2 separate regions of the Homo sapiens genome follow, and region 1 is linked to region 2. A link means that fine-mapping ties the variant in region 2 to the expression of a gene that starts in the linked region. Tissue or cell type: whole blood. Region 2 holds a variant in brackets; the other region holds the start of a gene. All regions are shown on one strand. Distances are between the middles of the regions.

Region 1 (11,937 bases), 73 kb after region 2:
ATATGAAAAAAAAAAACAATAAAAAGCAGAGGTTAGATATGAGTTTATATCTGAATCAGTTATTGAAGAGGTATGGGGTGATAAAAAAGGGGATATGTTATTGGGAAATAACTCTGTTGGGAGGTAGAAGCATTGGGAAGAAAATTAAATTCAGTAACCATTCTAGTGCTGACTCAAGGTTGCAGAGATTCTGTGATGGGAAGGGCATGATTCTTACCTCACTACAGTGAAGGAGACTCACATATACACACAACTACAAGATAAAGCAGAACTAGATAAAGACATAGTTACAGAGAGAGGGCATTCTAGAAAAATACCATTTTATTCATTAAGGATGGAAATTATTCACAGCGCCCATCTTTCTAATATTGAGGCTGCTTTTACTGGCTCTTGGAAGTCCTAAGGGCAATTATTTCCCCAAATCAGAAGCATGCCTCTTTTTGTATATGTGTCACTAAGTTTTTTATTTACTGTTTTTCCTAAATTTGGGTGCACATTATAGAATTGTACTTAAGATTCTAGACTGCCATTTAAGCACTGTGAATGTGATTTCTTAAGATACACGTTTTTATGAAGTGAATTTCTATTGATTTTTGAAATGTGCCTTGCAATAATAAATCTTGTAGTATCAAAAGATTTAGAGCTAAAAGGAATACCAGTACTGCATATGGTCAACTTACAGGCTTCCCAGTAGTACACAGTCAAAAAGTCAAATGCTATAGCTGGACTAACTGGTACTAGAATTGCAAAGTTATAATCATATTAAAAGACTAACTTTAGATTTTTTATTTGCAATGACAACATAATACAAAGTCAGTAGCTCTTGATTTTCTTGCTATATTATATCCAGTGACTACTGACGCTAATGTGGAACATTTCCTGCTAGTTATTCATTGATTAAAAAAAAGGAGTCATTTTTTTTTTTTCCAGAGACTGGGCAGGAGATAAGATGTCAAGAAGTAATAAGTAGTGAAATGAAAGAGGAGAATGCAAAGGAACCAAAAGAGAAAACATTAAAATGATGTTATTTTTTCCCCCTTGTGTATGCAGATGGACAGGAAAATTAGAGCAGTAATTGCAGACTCCTTTTCACTGAAGACAGAATGGCCTTGGGGAATCAGAGTATGGGAGAAAAAGTTCAGTGAAACTACATTCTCATCCAGGCCCCAACTGACTTGCTGGATATGGCTTTGTCCGAGGTCATTTACCCTTTCTGTGCCTTAGTTTCCTTAACTGTTGAAAAACATTATTTACCATTTTAAGTTACTGAGAAGATGAATGAGATCATGCTCCAGAAACACCCAAAACTGGTCACAAAATTAGGTGCTATAAGAATACTAAGTAGTACTATTATTACTGTACTGTGCATCCTGTTGGAATGAGTCATCTTGCTGCAAAGATGCATAAGCGATTCCAAGTGTGGTAAAAGACCAGAGACAATGAGAAGAGGCAGTTTACTCTTAGATGGCATTAAGGGAGAAGATCCCAGTCGCAGTGAAATCTGCCCTTGTTCAACGAACAAAAGCAGGAGGAAGGGAGACAAGACTCTCTTTTCTTTTTTCTTTTTTTTTTTTTTTGAGACGGAGTCTAGCTCTGTCGCCCAGGCTGGAGTGCAGTGGTGCGATCTCCTCTCACTGCAAGCTCCGCCTCCCGGGTTCATGCCATTCTCCTGCTTCAGCTTCCGGAGTAGCTGGGGCTACAGGCGCCCGCCACCATGCCCGGAGAATTTTTTGTATTTTTAGTGGAGACGGGGTTTCACCATGTTAGCCAGTATGGTCTCAATCTCCTGACCTCGTGATCCGCCCGCCTCGGCCTCCCAAAGTGCTGGGATTACAGGCGTGAGCCACCGCGCCCAGCCAACAAGACTTATTTTTTAACTACAGGCATACCTAGGAGACACTGCTGGTTCATTTCTAGACCAGCACAATAAAGTGAACATAGCAATAAAGTGAGTCACACCATTTTTTTGGTTCCTAGTGCATATATTAGTTATATTTATTATACTGTAATCCATTAAGTGTGCAATAGCATTATGGCTAAAAAACGTACATGCCTTAATTTAAAAAATACTTTAGCCAGGCGCGGTGGCTCACGCCTGTAATCCTAGCACTTTGAGAGGCCAAGGCAGGTGGATCACCTGAGGTCAGGAGTTCCAGATCAGTCTGGCCAACATGGTGAAACCCTGTCTCTAATAAAAATACAAAAATTAGCTGGGCATGGTGATGCGCACCTGTAGTCCCAGCTACTAGGCAGGCTGAGACAGGAAAATTGCTTGAGCCTGGGAGATGGAGGTTGCAGTGAGCTGAAATTGTGCCACTGCACTCCAGCCTGGGCAACCAAGTGAGACTCCATCTCAAAAACAACAACAACAACAAAAAAAAAACTTTAATGGTTAAAAAATGCTAATGGATCATCTGAGTCTCCAGCAAGTCTTAATCTTTTCGCTGGTGGATCTTGCCTCAATGTTGTTGAAGGCTGCTGACCAGTCAGGCTAGTGTTGATGCAGGTAAGAGCAGTTGTTGCAGTTTCTTAAAGACAATAGAGAAGTTTGCTGCATCGATTGACCCTTCCTTCCATGAAGGATTTCTCTGTAGCATGTGATACTGTTTGACAGCATTTTACACACAGTATAATTTCTTTCAAAATTGGAATCTATCCTTTCAAACCCTGCCACTACTTTATCAACTAAGTTTATATTATATTCTAAACTATTTGTTGTCATTTCAACAATATTTACAGTATCTTCACCAGGAATAGATTCCCTCTCAAGAAATCACTTTCTTTGCTCATCCATAAGAAGCAACTCCTCATCCCTTCAAATTTTACCATGAGATTGTGGCATTTCAGCCCCATCTTCAGGCTCTATCTCTAATTCTAGTTCTCTTGCTATTTCCATATTTCTAGTTACTGCCTCCACTGAAGTCTTGAACCCCTCAAACTCATCCATGAGGGTTGGAATCAACTTCTTCCAAACTCTTGATAATGTTGATCTTTTGGCTTCCTTCCTTAAGTCACAAATGTCCTTGATGGCATCTAGAATTATGAATTTTTTCAATTTACTTTTTCCAGATCCATCCAAGGACCCCCTATCTCTGGCAGCTATAGCCTTATGAAATGTACTTTCTACATAATAAGACTTGAAAGTCACAATGACTCCTTGATCCATGAACTGTGGAATGCATGTTGGGTTAGCCAACATGAAAACAACACTAATCTCTTGTATGTCTCCAGGAGAACTCTTGGGTAAACAGGTACACTGTCAATGAACAGAAATATTTTGAAAGGAATCACTTTTTCTTTTCTTTTTTTTTTTTTTTTTTTGAGCAGTAGGTCTCAACAGCAGACTTAAAATGTTCAGTCAGCCATGACAGATGTGCTGTCATCTAGGCTTTGTTGTTCCATTTATAGAGCACAGGAAGAGTATATTTAGCATAATTTTTAAGGGTCTTAGAATTTTTGGAATGGTCAATGAGAATTGGCTTCAACCTAAAATCACCAGCTGCATTATCTCCTAACAAAAAAGTCAGCCTGCCCTTTGAAGCTTTGAAGCCAGGCATTGACTTTTCCTCTCTAGCAGTGAAAGTCCTAGATGGCATCTTCTTTCAATAGTAGGCTGTTTTGTCTACATTGAAAATATGTTTAGTGTATCCACCTTCAATGATCTTGACTAGATTTTCTGGATAACTTGCTGCAGCTTCTACATCATTTGCTGCTTCATCTTGCACTATTATGTTACGGAGATGGTGTTTTTCCTTAAATCCCTGATAGCTTCAACCTTTTCTTCTGCAGCTTCCTCAGCTCTCTCAACCTTCATAAGATTGAAGAGAGTTAGAGCCTTGCTCTGGATTAGGCTTTGGCTAAAGGGAATGTTGTAGCTAGGTTGATCTTCTCCCCAGACCACTAAAATTTTCTCCCTATCTGCAATGAGGCTGTTTTGTTTTCTTATAATTCATGTTTTCACCAGAGTAGCATTTTCAATTTCCTTCAAGAACATTTCCTTTGCATTCCCAACTTGTCTAATTATTTGACACAAGGCCGAGCTTTTGGCCTCTCTTGGCTGTTGATACATCTGAGCTTAATCGTTTCTAGCTTTTCATTTAAAGTAAGGGACATGCAACTCTTCCTTTCACTTGGTCACTTAAAGGGCATTGTAGGGTTACTGGTTGGCCTAATTTCAATATTAGGCCATTATTATTAGACAATTATTAGTGTTTCATTTCAGGGAATATGGAGGCCCAAGATGAAGCAGAGAGACAGAGGAACAGCTGGTTGGTGGAGCAGTCAGAACACACACATTTATTAAGTCCCTGTCTTACATGGGCTCAGTTCATGGTGCCCTCAAAACAATTTCAACAGTAACATCAAAGATCACTGATTACAGATCACTATAACAGGTACAATAATGAAAAAGTTTGAAAGATTGCAAGAATTACCAAAATGTGCCACAGAGACATGTAGTGAGCAAATGCTGTTGAAAAACGGTGCTAGGACTTGCTTAATGCAGAGTTGCCACAAACCTTCAATTTGTAAGATGTGAAAGATCTGCAAACAGCAATAAAGTGAATCGCAGTAAAACAAAGTGGGCTTGTACAGCAAGGAGGTTATACAAATATACTTTTGAAATCCTACAGCCAGTTTGAATCCAGGCTTTGGCAGTTATTACTATGACTGGGCAAACTACTGTGTTTTTAAACTTCATTTTTCCTATCTGTAAAATGGGGATTTTTTATAGATTGTGTGTGTGTGTGTATATATACACACACACACACACATATATATATATACACACATATATATATAGTTGTTGTGAAGATTTAAAAATGTACACCGTCACAAGGACTCCATAAAATAAGCTATTATTGTAATCTATTGGAGACAGGGCAAGTAAAAATCCACACTGATGTTAAGTGAATCTTTAAAAACAAGTACCAGAAAAAGACGAGTTTTTATTTTATAAGATATGACCTAAGGGGCCTAGGAAGAGAAAAAACTTGTTTTGTCAAGTCTAAATCCACTCATATTTCATGGGGCCACGTATCACGTCCAACCTTTGATATCTGGCACACAACAAACAAACAGGAAAGGCCTTTCGTGTGCTTTAATAAAAACAGCTTTCCATTTTAAAACGATAAATATATTGGAAAAATCTGTTGGCTCTCCAACAGCTCTTATAAAACAAAGCTCAGACGCTGTGTTTTTGTTGTTTGAAAGAGAGAAATCAGGGGCTTGGGCATTATTAGGCTCCCTTTGATCGCGCCCTGGGATGGGAAGCCTTCGGGCAAAGCCCTGGGGGCAGGACGCGTTTTTTTTTTTTTTTTTTTTTTTTTTTAATCGATCCCGGAACCTTCGCGCGGCGGAGGGGGCGGGCGCGCCGCAGGGGCCCGAGGGAGGGGTCTGGGGCGCGGCGCCGCTTGCCCATCCCCCGAGCGCGCGGCGGGGCGGCCGGCCGGCGGCCGCCGGGATGCGGAGGGGCGGCGACGGGGGCCGGACCCTGCCGGGGCGGCGGGGCGGGCACCGCCCGAGGGGGTAGGGCGCGCGCGGGGGCGCGCCGGGCCGGGGAGGCGCGCTCGCTCCGCGCTCCCTTCGCTCGCTCGTTCCCTCCTCCCTCGGCAGCCGCGGCGGCAGCAGGAGAAGGCGGCGGCGGCGGCTAGGGATCAGACATGGCGGCGGATCTGAACCTGGAGTGGATCTCCCTGCCCCGGTCCTGGACTTACGGGATCACCAGGGGCGGCCGAGTCTTCTTCATCAAGTAAAGAGCCGGGGACGGCACGGGGGCCCGCGGGGGCGGGAGGGCAGGAGGCGGGCGGCTGGCGACACGGGGGAGAGCCCGGGTCTGTGCTCCTGCAGCCCCTCGGCTCGCCCCCGCGTCCCCTCTCACGCTCCGTGTCTGCCCCTTCTCTCACCCCTGCAGCGAGGAGGCCAAGAGCACCACCTGGCTGCACCCCGTCACCGGCGAGGCGGTGGTCACCGGACACCGGCGGCAGAGCACAGGTAACGCCGGGCCCAAACGGAGTTGGGCTCCGCCTGGAGGAGGCGGCAGAGCCCGGGCCGCCCGGCTCCCCGCAACCTGCCCCGCGCCGCGGGCCCCGGGAGGCGGCGAGGCGGGGCGGAGGCCGGGCGGGAGCGGCCGCAGGTAGAGGGGCCACGGGGACTCCGCCGCCGGGAGTTCTCTCCAGTCTCGGGGCGCCTCTTTCTCCTCAGCCTTTCATCAGCACTTGGAGACGGCGCCCTCTTCCTGCGCCTTCTCCCCCCATCCCAGCCTAGACGACCCTCGCGACCCTAGAGTGGCGACGCTCCCCTCCCTGAAACCTGGAGTCCTGAGTTTTTCCTCCGCGGCCGCTACTCACTCCCCGGTGACCCCCAGCTGCCGTCTTGCCCCCCAGCAATCTTCAGGCAGTCCTTACCCACTCCCCTCCCTGCAGCCCCGGACCCCGATCGCCCGCCGGGATAACGTAACCACATCCTCCCCCTCCTCCCAGGAGCGCTGCCTCCTGCCGTGCAGCTTCCTCCTCCTAGGTGGGACTTGTGGGTAGGTGGCTGATGAAGGAGGAGGAGGAGGAGGAGAGGAGTTCGGGGGTGCTGCGATCCTCTCTGTGACAGGGAACGGCTCGGGAAACGCTTGGCGCGTTCCCTCCTGCCACGGGAGGAGCAGCCGGAGCCGGAGGAGGCGTTCGCAGCCTCAGTTGCTGGCGATCCGGATCTAAAGTCCCCGCCAGCCGCACGGAGGTTGCACAGACTGCCAGGAGGCGGTGGGCGTGCGAGGGGGTGTCCCGTATGGGGGCACCCGGGCCCTGTTTGGAGGGAGTCCGTGGGGAAGCGGCTCTCTCGGGTGGCTTTGGGAGCTTGTTTGAATGCTAAGTGTGAGTGGAGCTGGAAAAGGCTCCTCGTAGTTTCTGTACTGGTCTGGGTTTCTTTTATCATTCTTTGTTTACATTCGTGACTTGTTTGTCTTTGAAATGTAACATGTGTTCTCTTACTGGCCTGCCTCTAGTCCTGGTGATTGGAAAGGCTTGAGAGCAGTTTGGGTCGAAGGCGAGGCCAGTTTCAGCAGTCCTCAGAGCTGGCCTCTGGGGTACATTCTCTCGGACTCTGACATTCCGTGAATCTGTTAAAGTTGCCAGGATATTGAACAAACCTGCCTCTCTGTGAAATGCTGGAGTTCACTGAAGTGACTAATGTCTCCAAATTTGCAAAAAGGTGGAGGAAGAAAGGAAAGGCTGGTGTAGCAAGCATGATGAGCTTACATTTTTAAGGCATTTCTGACTAATACACTATCATGTTTCTCAATTCCCCGGTGCAGGCTTTTGCTTCAATATACCTTTCTGGTGTTTTACACGCATATTCCAACTTTGATGGCCTCTTTGCTTTTATGGATAATGATAGATTTATTTCATGAAAGACGATATGACATTTAAATTATTTAGACTAATTATCCTATGGAATTATGAGTGATATAAATAAGTGTCCTAGTTAACCCCACAGATTTGGTAACATTCACGCCACAGAAAAATTTTATTCTTTTATGTGATTTCACTTTTTTTTTTTTCTGGTTTGGTTTTACTTTGCTTGGACTCTGGTTTTGTACACACATCGGTTGTTTTTACTTCCAAGAGGCATTTTGATGAAATCCAAACAACTTGTCATTAATAATAATATGTAGCACATAATGACCATTGTTCACCTGAATCATCCCCAACTTTACTACTTGAAACTTCACGTCTCTTAGTCAAATTTTTAGAAACACACACGGAAGTATTCGGTGTCATTTCTTTTCCATTAATTAAGTAGTTAGGAAGTTCTGCCTTCTTTTTGGTGACACTTCCTAGATGGATTCATTTGTGTAGCTGAAAAATACGGTCTTAAATAGACACAATATACCCAAGAAGAGGCAGGCGTTGCCTGTTATACCCAGCTTTTTTTTTTGCTAGTCATTCATGAGTGTTCCACCTGGGATGAGAAGGCTTCCCTTTGCTTTCTTGGGTGCCAGAACATAGTTCCTCTCCACCCTAATATATTACAGTGTGTGCTCAGGTCAGATAATCTCTAATATTATGGTTACTTTTCTGGTGGCTCTAAATTTGAATTGCTGTTTTTCAAAAAATGATATCTGTTGTATTGCCAGCTCAACACTTTTTTTGTTAGTAATCTACTTAATTAAAACAGCTAATAAATGAAAATGGATAATTAAAATGGATTGAGACTTATTTTGCTATCATTGAAGTAATACTAATTGTAATATATGTATTGTTTTAGATTTGCCTACTGGCTGGGAAGAAGCATATACTTTTGAAGGTGCAAGATACTATATAAAGTGAGTTTTTTGACTTTCATTTTTTTCCTTCGTAATTAGAATGCTGTGATTACTCCTCAGCTGAATAGTTGTATGTCCAGTCTTGATCATGATTTTCTGAAGTTTATCATATAATGGTGACTGTATTCTTTATTTTGTATAGTGTCAGAATTTTGAGAGAAGAAAATGGCACTCTTACTTTTCTAATGTTATTTGCCTGGAATATTCATCGATTCATTGATTTGGAAATTAGATCATTTATGGCCACTTTTAAAAATAATTTTGTATCTTCGTTTTTTTCTTTTGGAATCGTCCAGCTTCATCAGAATATGACCACAATTACCTTTTTTTTTTTTTTTTTTTGGTGCTTCTGTGTATATTCCTGGGTAATAGAGGATTATTGGTCATTAGCTATGTGGTACTTAAAGTTTTGATCTTTGATTATCTGTGCTGAGAGATAACAAACAAAAAAAAATCTGAGTTACGTGAACATCTTTTTTTTTTTTTTTTTTTTAGTGAACCTTGTTCATGTATATTTTGACCAGGGCTGTTTATAGGTAGCAAAAGTGATGTAAAGCTAGGCACAATTTGATAAACAATGACGGTCAGGGAGTAAAAATAGAAATAGTTACTGAATATTTCATGAGCATATATTGGAGCATTGTTTGTATTTTTGCCTCAGTTTATTTAAATATGTCTAAGTCAAGATGTTTTATTGATATGTTTGTTTAAAAAAGGCTTTTAGTAGAGCTTGAGAGAAAAGATGACCAGTCAGTCCCAATCTTAAAACCAGTTCTTTAGAATATTAAACTAATTTATGTTCAAACTTAATAACTTAGTACTACTTGGAGACAAATACAAAGCTGGAGGTCAACATCATGTAGGAAAAATTTTAATCCCCCAACGAAAAATATGGGTGGTTTTGTCTTTTTATTTTTATATTAGAAACTATTTACCTAAGAGTTTGTTTTTATTGTTTAACCTTATTTGTTCTTTAATTTTAATAAACTGAGACATGAAAGAGAATGCTGAAATGCCAAACTGGGTTAAGACTTCAGTAGTTTATAAACAATAACAGATACCTAGCTAAAGTTACCTTTATTTCATTGAGCCTAGAAAGTTATTTTTACTGTGACATTTTTAAGATCATGTTATACTTCCAGTAAATTATAATTACCTGTATGGTTCTTTAATCTTTTAGAAAGATACTTAGATAAAACGTCAAGGGCTTTTTTATAAGTATTAGGAATGCTTGCTTTTGGATGTAGAAATAGAGAAAGCAGAAGATACAGGAATGGAATAGTTTCATGGTATGGTCTTTCTGTGAATATTTTTGGGTGAAATCTTTTCTTTGGAGATTATACTATACATTATTAGATGGCCTAAAAAAATACTTGAGTGAAATGCAGTCATCAAATGTTTTTCTATTGGTTATTTCCATCCTAAATTAAAGTGAGTTGATATTGCCACGAAAAGGGATACTTCTTTTCTTGTCAAGCTAGTAGTATGGTATATGTGAAGAAAAACAGTTTTTTCATTTCAGGTCATTTATTCAATGTAATTTTGACTACTGTACATTAAGCCTAGCTCATCTTATAAAAACAGAGGTAACATTTCAATTTTCAATAACATTTTAATTTCTTTGCGTGCATTCTTGGATGAATGTTTATTTGATAGTACAAAATCTTATTCTGTGTGGGCTGAGTATGTATGTTTTAATTTAGAACTAAGCTGTTAGGAAGACATTGAGTGAGTTTCTTTTGTTTTACGAGCCATTTTGATTAGGTTTTCTTTTATGTTTACTTAAACAAATTAGAATTTTATTTGAGTGCCATGTCTAATGCCTAAGTAGGTTTCTCTGGAAAATTAAGACAATATTAAGAAAGCTATAATAATTTTACTTTAAAGACATTTTTAAACTTGTAGGTTTTAATCATTTTGGTATTCATAGCCAGTAATTGTGTCCAAAAGTAGCAATAAATAACTTATAATATTATGGAAGTAATTTCTCCTAAAATTGAGCATAGTGTTGCATATCACTCATTAAACTTTTAAAAAAACTAACCATTGATAAATATATGATGTACTGAATGTTAGGTGCTACTGCTTTATCTTCTGGGTAATGTCAGAAGACTAATTTCTTTTAAGGTTAGTTAAATCCCTAATGTGCACTGTAATTTCCTAGAAACTTTTTACTTGTTTGTATTGTTATTTATCATTCTAATAGGATAGGGGCACTACTTTTATCTTAAACTTTACAATTTAGAGTACCTTCACATACATTATTCATTCATGAAGTAGTCAGAGTTACTACTCCCATTGTCACACACATAATAAAACAGCAGAAACATGCCTTTGGAACTTACAGTTTGCAAAGACAGCAGGATGAGAAACCCCAGGAACATAAACTATATTTAGAATATTCAGAGTGGAGGAAAAGATAGGAGTCTGAAGTAGGAAAGTGATTCGTGTTGGTGGCTATAGTTTTTCATTGTCATTTCTTTCTCAGATGAAGAAAGGTGGTTATTGATCAAATTGTATGTAAAGGAGGTTACAGGGTTATCGGGGTGGATTTTGTTCACATGGGAAGTGGAAAGATAGGAATGCCAATAAAAGACATGTCAGCCCTTTGACTATTCCTAATCCTGTGTTCTGGAAAGTTCTCACTGCAAGAAGGGAGACCTAAAGAATTTCAGTTGTTTCTGCTTCCATTGTGAAGTGAAATATATATAACTCTTAAATTATTCCTCTCCTGGACAAATGTTGGTTGGTGTTAAAAATGGCAGGTTACCAGAAAGAATTTATCTCTTAATTATATTTTGGTATTGACACTTGCATCTCTGTAGGTGGTAAGAGGAGAGGATTGTAGTGGGGAAGTCATAGGAACTGAAATGTGGTCTTGACCTTAATGACTTTGGAGCTCAGTCTTCACGTCTTTAAATTAGGTTACCTGGAAAAGGCAACCTCTAAATTCCATTTCTAAATTTCTTTGAATTTTGTACTGTTCTGGGATTTATAATATTCTGGAAAACAAGGAACTCACAATGCCAAGCAGAGATGATGCGGGAAATATGGAAAGCTAGCTTTTCTATCCTTCTTAACTATTTTATCCTCCCTCTTTAAGCTTTGGATAGACAATCACAGATAAGTATGATGTATGTAGTGCCAGGGTTGTGTGTACTTTCTTTTGCTGCTTTTTGTGCTTACGTTTCCTTGTAAAATGTTTGTATACATATCTTCATGTAAACAGATAGTACTGCTAATGTAAACAAAGGACCTGATCAGCGTAAGAGTTGTATAGGTTTGAGTTAATCAGTTTATTTTATACACTTTGAAATTGGTTCTTTAATACAAGTTTGCAGCTAGATTAAAAAAATATGTAATATAGAGAATGTATTTTCCTTCACATCCATTTGGCCAAAAAACAGTAAAATATGAAAAATCTTACTTTGTTTTTTTTTTTTTTTTTGAGGGGGGTTTCACTGTGTCACCCAGGCTGGAGTGCAGTGGCTCTATCACAACACACTGCAGCCTTGACCTCCTGGGCTTAAGCGATCCTCCCACCTCAGCCTTACGAGTAGCTGGGACCACAAGTGTGTACCACCATGCCTGGCTAATTTGATTGATTGATTGATTGAGAGAGACAG
Region 2 (11,937 bases):
ATGATCTGATCTGCCTTGCTTCGCCCACCCACCTATCTACCGACATCATCCCCTATCACTCTCCTTTACATTCCTCATGCTCAGCCACAGCATCTCACTGCTTTTCCTCAAATACACCAAACACAATCTTTCCCTACGGATTTTGCACTTGCTCTTTCCTCTGCCTGCACTCTCTTTGCCCACATATCCACATAGATGGCTCTGTCACTTCCTTCAGATCTCTGCTCAGATGCCATCTTCTCATTAGGGGTTCTTTTGAAGAATTCTATGTAAAATAGCTAACTTTTCACCACTACCATTGCTCCTTTTGCCCCTTCTTGATTTATTTCTCTGTAGTATTCCGCACCAACTAACATGCTATCTATTTACTTGTTTCTTTTTTTTTTTTTTTTTGAGACAGGGTTTCACTCTCGTTGCCCAGGCTGGAGTGCAATGGCACAATCTCAGCTCACTGCAACCTCCGCCTCCCGCCTCCCAGGTTCAAGCAATTCTCCTGCCTCAGCCTCCCAAGTAGCTGGGATTACAGGCATGCAGCACCACTCCCGGCTAATTTTGTATTTTTAGTAGAGACAGGGTTTCTCCATGTTGGTCAGGCTGGTCTTGAACTCCCAACCTTAGGTGATCCGCCCACCTGTGCTTCCCAAAGTGCTGGGATTACAGGCATGAGCCACCGCGTCCGGCTCTTACTTGTTTCTTTATTGTTTTCTCTTACTATTACTGCAATATAGGCACCATAAGAGTAAAAACTTTGCTTTGTCCACTGCTGTATCTCCCAGCAACTAAAGCAGTACCTGGCATATGAACATTTGATAAATTCTTTTTGATTAAATGCATTAATAAGTGCATTACCTTTAATCTTTTGTTTGACAAATTGATAAATGTTTTCTGACATATTACAAGTAATTTTAAGCGAAAACCCTTTACATTTATTTTGTCTCATATTTGTATGTGCTGTGTTTTAACATGAGTGGTCATTGTCCATTACTTACTTCCCTCCCTCATCCCTCCTCCTATCAGTCCATTCATTTCTAAATGCGACGATGCTCCCTGATCCATATCCTTGTGCTATTCCAAAGTGTTATGCCATTTTCTCTACTTCATTTCTCAAGATTCGTGCTACCTGGGGAGGGAAAGAAGTGTCAGACGCACAGTGCTCAGAATGTACAGTAGGCATTTTTCTAGTAGTTTGGGAAGGAACCAACACTTAAAACATAGAAGAAAGGAGGAAAGAAAAGAACAATGGCTCTTCCTGGCAGCACTATTTTCTTAACCCTGATTCTCTGGTTACTCAGATAGCACATGGCATTTTATACCCGCTGCTTTTATAATGTCTTAGATTATCATGATGATTGAGAGGCATAATTTGATCACCTGCTGTCAATGGTCATGGATGCATATTAGTTATCACAATGTATAACTGAATTAATAGAGCAGAAATTTGTCCCAAATAGCTGCACTGTTGTTTCATCCCCAGTCTCTGATTGCATGCTACTGGTCATTGCTGGTACTTAACTAGCACAATATAAGCTTCTTGCTGTGATGCCATTTTCTCACCCAGTCTGGCTGAGGTAACCTAGTTGCTTACAGAAAGAAAACTGACTCAGGAGTTGCTAACATGCTTTGCTTCTTAAAGAATCGTTATAATATGATCTATGTGAGGGATGTGAGTTGAGTTGAAAACAACCAAAGAACCAAAAATAGGAATAAATCCTGAGAAGGGGGATTTGAAAGCTTTTAGGGACATAAAAGAAGCAAATGTAAGAAATGACAGAGGGAAGATTTTGCTGCGCTTCCAACTGACAGTAGAGATAGAGGAAAGGAAAAGAGGAATACTAAATGGCAAAAGAGCTCACCGTCAGATAGTTATCTCCTCTGCATGGAATGAACAAGGTTGAAATTAAACAGATAGTATTTACAGAAATGACTTAACTGGTAGATATCTTTTAGATCAAACCTCACTACTGGTGAAGATGTAACACCAACTCATTTTCAGGTTTCCCCAACCTTGAGTAACCTCACCATATACCCCTCTGCTATGCTTCCTGACCTAAATACTGCAATTGTCACTGCTTCCTGAAGTGGGTCATAACACTGCATATTCCAAGACTACAAAATGAGGTGTTAGGACCCAATAGATGATTGCCACAGGTCTTTTTAATCCTAAAAAAATATTTTACACAAAACACTTTACACTACCCTTGTACTCACAGATCACCCTGCAAGATATCAGACCCCTATCCAGAGTACCAGAAGGAAAGCTCACTACTTCTTCCCTTTGATTCTCTTCCCTCTTCCTACACAGACTTAATGAAGACATCTGCCTGACAATATTCAGCTTGTCAAATTAGACAAGAAACAGCCAAATCTGCCTTGTCATCTGTGTCCAAAAAAAAAAGAATCTAAAGATGTCAGAAATATATATGCTTTATCTTGCCCTCAGCCCATTCTTGCTAATTATAAAAAAGAACAATGGATGCTAAATGGTTTTACACTTCTCTTAATTTTGATGTTCCCTTATGAAAAATGAATCTTTCTTACCACTGGAGCCCATGAACAGCGTGCACAAACTGGCTCTGATGGAGAGAAAAATTGCCTAAGAGTGGAGAGTAAAAATATGTGGCTTTTTCACTAGCTTGAATGCTTGAACCAATATGCAGAAAACCCTAGCTGCCAGAGAGAAAGATGGAAGTTGGACAGAGAAAAGGTAAAGCAGATGCTCTCAAAGGTTTGAAAAGCAATTCTAAGTTTCCACAAAACTAGAATTAGACCTGCAGATGACACATGTAAAATGCTGACACACCCATATCTGTTCCCCATGTTGCCTCTCTTGTCTTTTTCTCCCATTCAAATTTATTTCCTCTCCTCTCTCCTCCTTTTCTACATCTCAGCACCACCCTATATGTAAAATAAATGACAATGAAAAAAACAAAGAGACTATCTCTTATGCTCACTTCGGAATTCCTTGTTTGTGTATACTATTGTAAATTCTTGTTGGGCAGACATACTGTTATTTAAAATTATTTCCTTGATTATTTCCTCAAAGCCGGAGGCAGTGGCTGACACCTGTAATCCCAGGATCTGAGGAATTGCTTGAGGCCAGGAGTTTAAACCCAGCCGGGGCAACATAGCAAAACCATCTGTACAAAAATCTTAAAGAAAAGAAAAATTAGCTGGGCTTGGTTGGTAGGCTGAAGGGGGAGGATGGTTTGAGCCCAGGAGTTTGAGGCCGCAGCAAGCCATGAAGGCACTACTGAACTCTAGCCTAAACAACAAACCAAGACATTGTCTCAAAAAAAAAAAAAAAAAAAAACCAAATTATTCTTTCCTGTGATTTATAAAGTTCTCTTTAGACTCTCCTTCCCTACAATATTTCAACTGGTGAAAAAGTCAACCAAAAAATATTAGTTCCTTCATGGACGTTGGTCTTTACTGGTTGCCCAATCCATTCACCTTCCGCCAATTTCGTTCTGGGAAAATGCCCCTTCCCCATTGCATGTGGTCGTGGCAAGGAAAGCAATTGCCCGTCTTTGGAAACCAAGTGTTCCAGATCCTTTTTCTGGTAGTCCCAAGGGTCAGTTGTGTGACTTAACTCCAGCCAATCAGTTCTCTCTTTTCTGGGACTGTGAATATTGAGTGAATAATACAAGAATGAAGAAAACATTGTAGAGATGATTTCATTTCAGTGGCAATAAAAGAGAAGAGGTGCGCTAACCAGACAAGTTTTGCCATGAGATGGTTCTGTTCTTCCTGCTTCCTGGTTTTCTAAATCCCCTTTTGCTCCTCTCTGTTCCCAAGCCTTGCCTTGCTGCCTGCTAGCCTGTTATCCCCACGTAAGCAAGCACCATATCCATCCCTTCCCCTACCACCAAGGTCCTAAATAAATGTACTTTGGTTTAAGCTAACGGTAGTCAGTTTCTGTTGATCACAATTAGGGTAACTGATAGAATACTCTAGAGATGAAAGTGAAACTACAAAAGATCATTTGCAAACTATTTTTTATTGCAACAAAAATGCTTGTGAAGGGAAAATTGGTAAGATTTTTGCTATGTGGAGAAATAGACTACACAATTTGTAATGAAACATATTTTAAACAATTTTCCCTTTTAAATAATTTCAGTATGTCCTGGGAAAATGGAAGCCATCAAATTTTAAAAGAAAAATAGGCAGTTAATAATGTAAGGACTGTCCCTCCACTTTAGGACAGAGTTAGGGGGAAGGATATTAATAGAGAATACCAGAGATTTTAAATTTGACAGCGTGAAGCCTGAAAAATTCTAAAATTTATCTAGATTAGGGAGAGTGCTGGATCAAAGATCGAATGACCAGAGTAATGGCAGTGGAGTGAGCAGATGTGACAAGAGGACGTGTCATGAATGGCCCCAATTAATACTCTTGTTGACAGGCAGCTGAGTCATTAAATGACAGTGAACGAAAAACTGTAAATGAGTAGAGAGAACCCATGGGTAGGAGAAGACAACATAAGAAAACCAAATGATACACTTATAGCTTGATAATGGCTCCACTTAGTTAATGCTAGTTATTAATTTTTACTGATAAACTTCAGTATGTAAGTATCACTAACTTTATCAGGAAACTACTTTTCATATATACCTCTGCCATTTTAATTTTTTGATATGATAGGGAGAAAATGCAAAGATGAGGAATTCTGTGTTATAATGTACCATATCATGGGCAACACAGAGCTTGGACTGAATGGGTGACTCGTGTGTGTGTGTGTGTGTGTGTGTGTGTGTGTGTGTGTGTGTGTTGAGCATAAGTATACAGAAAAGCAAGAAGAATGAATGGAAATCTAAGCTTGAATTGCCTGAATCAAGATTCATGCTGGAGAGAAATGAAAACCAACATAAAGATTGTCATTGAGGCTATAAGAAATGATGCATGCTTAAGGAGTACTGGGAATAGAAAAAAA[A/G]TAGCAGAATTCTGACACAAGAGTTCTGAGAGACAAACACATTAAAGAGAAAGAAGAAGCAGCAAAAAGAATATGAGGGAAACTGGCTGAAGAAGTATCAAGGGAACTAAGAAAATACACTATTCAAGAGAGAGAGATTCAAGGGAAATGCTGCACACATCAAAGAAACTGCTGATAAAGAAAGGGCCTCCAGATTGGGTTCTGCATAAATGCATTATTATAGCATTAGCAACATTTTTCTGATTTTTAATTAAAACACATGTATTACTAAATTTAGTAATATACTAAAAAGCATTTGGAATATACCAAAGATCTATTTTGACATTTTACCACAATATAATTATTTCCAGAGAACAGGGATGTCTATTTTTGTGGCATAAATTACAGTCAAGGACCAGGCGCGGTGGCTCACTCCTGTAATCCCAGCACTTTGGAAGGTTGAGGCGGGTGGATCACTTGAGGTCAGGAGTTCGAGACCAGCCTGACCAACATGATGAAACCCCATCTCTACTAAAAATACAAAATTAGCTGAGCGTGGTGGTGCATGCCTGTAATCCCAGCTACCTGGAAGGCTGAGGCAGGAGAATTGCTTGAATCTGGAAGGTGGAGGTTGCAGTGAGCCAAGATCATACCATTGCACTCCAACCTGGCCAAACAAGAGTGAAACTCCGTCCAAAAAAAAAAAAAATTACATTCAGAGACATGGAGACTGCTAGCACCAAAAAAAAAGTGTGCTTGACTAGCATCAAAGGAACAAAAGAAGTTGAGTCCAGAGTTAATCCCAGCCATAGTTCTACATATTTATGATTTGTTTTGTTACTCTACATGGCAAGAAAGCTACTTTGGAATCAAGCAAGCTTGTTTGAGCTCAGATCAGCTGCTTTCTAGGTGTGTGATCTCACAGTTATTTAATTTCTTCAAGCCTCCGTACCCTCATCTATAAAATGGAGCAAATAATATCTACTTCAGTGAGGGTTGCCTTCCTTAGTGTTCTTAATTATGGCTGATTATATATAAAGTGTTTGATATTGGAGTTATTTTTTAATGCCTGTACCTATCTGGTAAGATTTCAGAAGCTCCAACTTACGGTCAGGCACAGTGGCTCACACCTGTAATCCCAGCACTTTGGGAGGCTGAGGTGGGCAGATCATCTGAGAGGTCAGGAGTTCGAGACCAGCCTGGCCAACATGATGAAACCCTGTCTCTACTAAAAATACAAAAATTAGCCGGGTGTGGTGGCACGTGCCTGTAATCCCAGCTACCCAGGAGGCTGAGGCAGGAGAATCACTGGAACCCGGGAGGCGGAGGCTGCAGTGAGCTGAGATGGCACCACTGCACTCCAACCTGTGCAATAGGGCAATAGAGCGAGACTCCGTCTCAAAAAAAAAGAAAGGAAAAAAAAAAGCTCCAACTTACTTGCCTTCTTTCCTTGTCACCATCAGCATCAACGCCTCCATTCCATACTTAGATTGAAATCCAAACTTCCCACTTTAGATTAAATCCTTTGGCTAAAGAATGTCCTGGTTTAAAAGATTAAAAATACTGAAAGATAACACATTAGGCTTGTCAGTCTGCCCCAATGGATAAGTTTATTTAATTTTTGATTGAGAGTGTATTTTAATGGGGGTAAAAAGTCATTGAAAGTCCTGAATCCGTTTGGAATAGTAGTGTAAGTGTATCATCCTGAGAAGGAAAACAGGGCAAAATGGGGAACCTGGAAGCACAGAAACAAACTTTATCTTCTTTATGGATATCTCCCAGGATCTAACTTAGTTTAGAAAGTGTTATTTCAGGCAGGGTGGAGAGAGAAAAAAAAAAGATCTGTTCAATATTCAACAGTTATGACTTTCTAAAGTGCCATGAGGGTAAAATATAAAAGCTTTTATTAAAATTCAAGCATTCATAATACATTTTTATTTATAGATAGCCTTTATTCCCAAAGCTCTTGGGACTTTGCAGACACGTTACAATTCAACCTCAATTTATCTTCACAAGTATGTCACTAAAGTGTGTAAGGAGTAGGTATAACTCTATTATCTTCAGATTACAGATATAGAAATGAAAGCAGAGACAGATAAAGTAATTTATCTATGGCCTCACTACACGTAAGTGGTTGAGCAGGGAACAAAGCCAGTCATGTAATAGATACCTCTCCTGTCAGATAAGGACATCAGCATCCCATCCCAGCTAGGACCTGCCTTTTTCTGAATCCTTAGTACCAACAAATAGAAGGCTGGGAAGATGGAAGGTCCTATTCAGAGAAATAGAAATTAACAGTTCAGTCTCTGACAAATCATTGCTGATATGGTTGCTGTGGATTTGAGGCTGTGAGGTGAGCCAGAAGTTGAGGCTAGTCTAAAGGGCAGAGCAGTTTCTGGCCATTAGATGAACATCTGTGTGCCCTAAAGCCTGCTCTCCTGCACCTCCCACCATTCCTGCCTTTAGCCAGCTTCAAGCCCAGCGTGGCCGAGCAAGTCACACTGCAACTTCGGCTCAGCTGAATGGGTCCTGAACCCTAACCTAGCCCACCCACCAAATCAGCATTGCACTGCAGCCACTGTCTGTCTCTGAGGTAAAACTGGAGCATACATCACTCTGACACTGAGCCAAATTCTGAGGCAAGACTTTCACTTTGTTTTTCCACCAGTTATTTTCTTTCAAAGGTCATTGTTCAGAAGAAAATAAAGGAGAGCTGGCATGAATATTTTCAGGAAAGGATAATAAACGAGCACTCATTCATTATTTTTGTTTATAAAAATCTACTTTCCTTTCTTGAGAAAAATGAAATAAGATGGTAGAATAATTACTAAAATTGGATGTTTAACAATAAATGGTTAAGATCACTTATCTTAGGTAAAGATATGTAAAGATGTATAAAGCCTTAAGCCAAAGTTATTGCTTACGATTGTGACAAACTTGAATTTAGGTGAAAAAAAACTGGATTCAAAAATGTATGGTTGGCTTAGATACAAACTTCTCACTGTGATGCTTGAAGCAAACCAAAATAAAGCCCTCCCTCTATTTTCATAGTCTCCTTTTTTCTATTCCCCAAAGTAGACCTCTCAATATAATTAAATCGTATTATTTCCTCTTCCAAAATATGTTTTACATTTTCTTTTATCTTTGTTAGAATGTTGCTACTGCTTAAAATGTACTTCCCTTCCATCCCAATTAATAATGATAAAAGATTTTATTCATCAGGAAGTTGTAACAACTCTAAATTTATATGTGTCTAATGCTATGACCTCAAAAAGAGTAGTTCATTTCAGGACTATAAAAAGAAATTTGTGAATCCACAATAAAAGAGGCAGATTTTTAACACAACTCTTACTAACCAATAGAATAAAAAGACAAAAAATCAGTAAGGATGTAGAAGATTTGAATAACAGCATAGCAAACTTGTTCTTTTCTGCTACACACAGAATATAGTATTTATTAAAACTGGGTTCTCAAGAAGCTAAAAAAAGAAAAGGAAATTAAACCACAAATGTAAACTAAGGAAATATTAAAGCTAAGAGCAGAAACTGGGTTCTGTCACATATCCTTGTGTTTTGGTTGTTGTTGTTCTGTTTTTAATAACTCTTTCAAAATATAAAAACCGTTCTTAGCTCACTGGCCCAAACAAAAACAGGCCATGGGCCAGGTTGACCTGAGAACTATAGTTTGCCCACTCCTGCTTTAGATCATACAGACATTAAAATGATCATAACAAGATATTACAGGCCGGACACAGTGGCTCATGCCTGTAATCCCAGCACTTTGGGAGGCCAAGGCAGGAGGATTACTTCAACACAAGAGTTCAAGACCAGCCTGGGCAGCATAGTGAGACTCATCTCTACAAAAGAAAAAAGAATATATTATTTTTAAAATTTCATGTCAATAAATTTTAAAATTTAGATGACATGGCTGGGCACAGTGGCTAAAGCCCGAAATCCAGCACTTTGGAAGGCCAAAGCGGGCAGATCACTTGAGGCCAGGAGTTTGAAACCAGCCTGGGCAACCTGGCAAAACCCCGTCTCTACTAAAAATACAAAAATTAGCTGGGCATGGTGGTGCACACCTGTAATCCCAGTTAGTTGGGAGGCTGAGGCACAAGAATCGCTTGAACCCAGGGGACAGAGGTTTCCATGAGCTGAGATCATGCCACTGCACTCCAGCCTGGGCAACAGAGTGAGACTCTGTCTCAAAAATAAATAAATAAAATAAAATTTAGATGACATGGACAAAGCACAAGCTACCAAAACTAAGACAAGAATAAAAAGTCTAAATGGCCTGTTAAAGATACTGGATTCTCAATTTAATTCCTTCCCACAGAGAAAATGACAGGCCCAGATGGTTTGCTGGTAAATGCTACCAAACGTTTAAACAGACTTTTCTAGAGAACAGCAAATGAGGCACTATTTCTCTTTATTTTTGAAGTTATTATGTTAATGTTGATATCAAACCATGACAAAAATGCTTCAAGAAAGAAAAAGTCTGAGTCAGTATCACTCAGAGCACAAATTGAAAAAATCCTAAACAAAATTCTAACATCAAATTTAGCAAAATATAAAAATCTGAGTTCATTCCAAGAGTGCAAGATTGGTCAAAGATTTAAAAATCAGTCAGTTCAATTTATCACATTAGTGGAAAAGAGAAAATTCATATGATCATTTAAATAAATAAAGAAAATACTGTGATAAAATTCAAAATCTATTCATTATAAAAATTCTCATCAAACTAGGAATACAAGGTAATCTTCTTATTTTGTTAAAGAGTACGAAAAGGAAAGATACAGCAAGCATTATTCTTAGCGGTGAAACGGTGTAAGCTTTCTACTGAGATCTGGAAAAAGATGGGTATGTCTGTCGTTACCACTTCCTTTCAACATTGGAAGAAGGTAGCCACCAGTACAGAAAGGGAGCCCAGCTAATACAGAAAAACAAAAGGGAAAGAAAATGAGGAATGGGAAATGGGGGGAAAGACTGGAAAGAAAGAAATAAGAAATAAAACCCAGATGATATGTGCATGTGTTCATAGAAGTGTCAAAAGAATGACAGAAAATTAGCATTAACAAGACAGTTCATCAAAATTGCTACACAAGTAAATAAATGCATTCCTTTTCCTACTTCAGGTCAGGAAGAATATTCTCCTGTTATGTTCTAGAAGCTCCAGAGGCTCCTAAATATATTACTTTATGGCAACAATAAACAGAAAATAAAATTTTTAAATGATACTATTTATTATAAACCAAAAATGTTAAATTATTAAATATTAAATCTAACAAAAGACATATAAGACCTCTATACAGAAAACTATGAAACATTGAAAGACCTTAAAGACTAAAACAAAAGGAGAGACACACCATGTTCATGAGTTTGAAGACTCAATAATGTAATGTCAATTTTCTTCAAACTGCTGTATAGAGTCAGTACAATCCCAGCTAAAATCTTAACCCATTTTTAAATTTGTTTTATATGTGTGTGTTTACATATATTATGTGTGTGTTTATATTTATGTGTTTGTGTATTTGTCTTGTTGTTGTTTTCATGGAATTGGAAAAGCTGGTCCTAAAATGAAAATGCATCAAAATGCAATTGGACCAGTCCGGTACCAAAATGGAAATATATGGAAATGCAATAGACTCAGAATAGTGAGGATACTCTCGAAGAAGAACATGATGCGAGGACTTACTCTACAGGACATTGATACACCCTACATGTAAAAATAATTAACACAATATGGTATTGATTAAAGGACAGACAATAAAACAATGAAATGAAAACAAAATTCCAGAAATAGACCTGTTCATATCTAGATCCTGAATTACAATTAACATGGCACTTCAGAATAGCAGGGAAAGCATAACTTTACAATAAATGTTGCTGACAACATTGGAAATCCCCATAGGTGAAAAAAAAAATGGACTCTAAACTTAATCACATGCCATTCAGAGAAAACAATGCCAGAGAGATTGCAAATTTAAGTGTGAAAAAACAAAATTCTGAAGCTTCTAGAAGATGTTAGTAGAATTTCTTCATGACCTAGATAGAATTGGAAAAGACTTCATAAACAGGGCACCAAAAGCAAAATCATAAAAAGAAAGACTAATTAAAGTTACTATATCAAGTTTATTGAGACATCAATAAGAGAGTAAAAAGTAAGCCATGAGTAGGAGACAATATTTTTAATATACATAAACAATTCTACAAACCAATAATAATAAAGGTGAACAACCAAATGGAAAAATGTGCAAGAGATTTGAACAGCCAACTCACAAAAGATGATATCCAAATAGTCAATGAATGTATGAACATGTGAAAGGTACTGAACTCATTGGTTAATGTAAACTCAGGGAAAATGTAAACTAAAAGTAGATAAAGTACCACTACAAACCCATCAGTGTGGCCAAAACTTAAGACTGAAAATACCAATCATTGAGGCATTCACTATTGTTTAGCATATAAAATTAATGCAATCTGCTTAGCAGAGTCTGGCAGTGTCTAAGGATTGAATACAAGCACACTGTAGATCTAGCACTTCCCCTCCTAGGAACAGATATAACAGAAATGTGTACATATGTGCACCAAGCGCCATGTAGAAGCACGTTCTTAGCGGTATTATTTGTTTTTGCCTCAAACTAAAAATACCCAAATGCCCATTAACAGTAAAATTGATAAATGAATTGTAGCTGTAATTCTATAATGGAAGATTAAAAAATACTGAAAAATAAAAATTACAGTTAAAATAAAATCCTGAGTAAATTTCACAAATATGACGAGCAAAAGAAACCAGCCATGAAAGCATTTATATTGTGTAATTTCTCACTATATAATTCAAAACAGACAAAACTAAACTATAGAGTTTAGCAACACATGCCTAGAGATAAATCTATAAAGCAAGCCAGAAGATGATTACAATAACAGCCAAGGGAAGATGAAGGGAACGTAAGTTGGATTTCTGGGGTGCTGGCAGGATTTTGTTTTACTTTTATTTTACATTTGGGGGGTACATGTGAAGGTTTGTTA

What was found. PIP is the estimated chance that this variant, and not a neighbour inherited with it, causes the effect.
Region 1: PLEKHA5 starts here. The variant in region 2 is fine-mapped to the expression of PLEKHA5 in whole blood (TOPMed, PIP above 0.99). The same link has a PIP of 0.9 or more in blood mononuclear cells.

The regions. Positions count from the first base shown.
Region 1 is chr12:19,124,140-19,136,076 of GRCh38, forward strand. It overlaps PLEKHA5 (pleckstrin homology domain containing A5), which reads left to right and starts at 5,594. Exons shown (of 32, transcript NM_001256470.2): 1 at 5,594-5,749; 2 at 5,912-5,991; 3 at 8,254-8,311. The coding sequence starts at 5,661.
Region 2 is chr12:19,051,403-19,063,339 of GRCh38, forward strand. All of the region lies in intron 1 of LOC107984527 (a long non-coding RNA gene), which reads left to right. Among named protein-coding and RNA genes, the nearest start is that of PLEKHA5, 72 kb to the right of the region's middle. The variant A/G (reference allele first, on the strand shown) is at 4,931.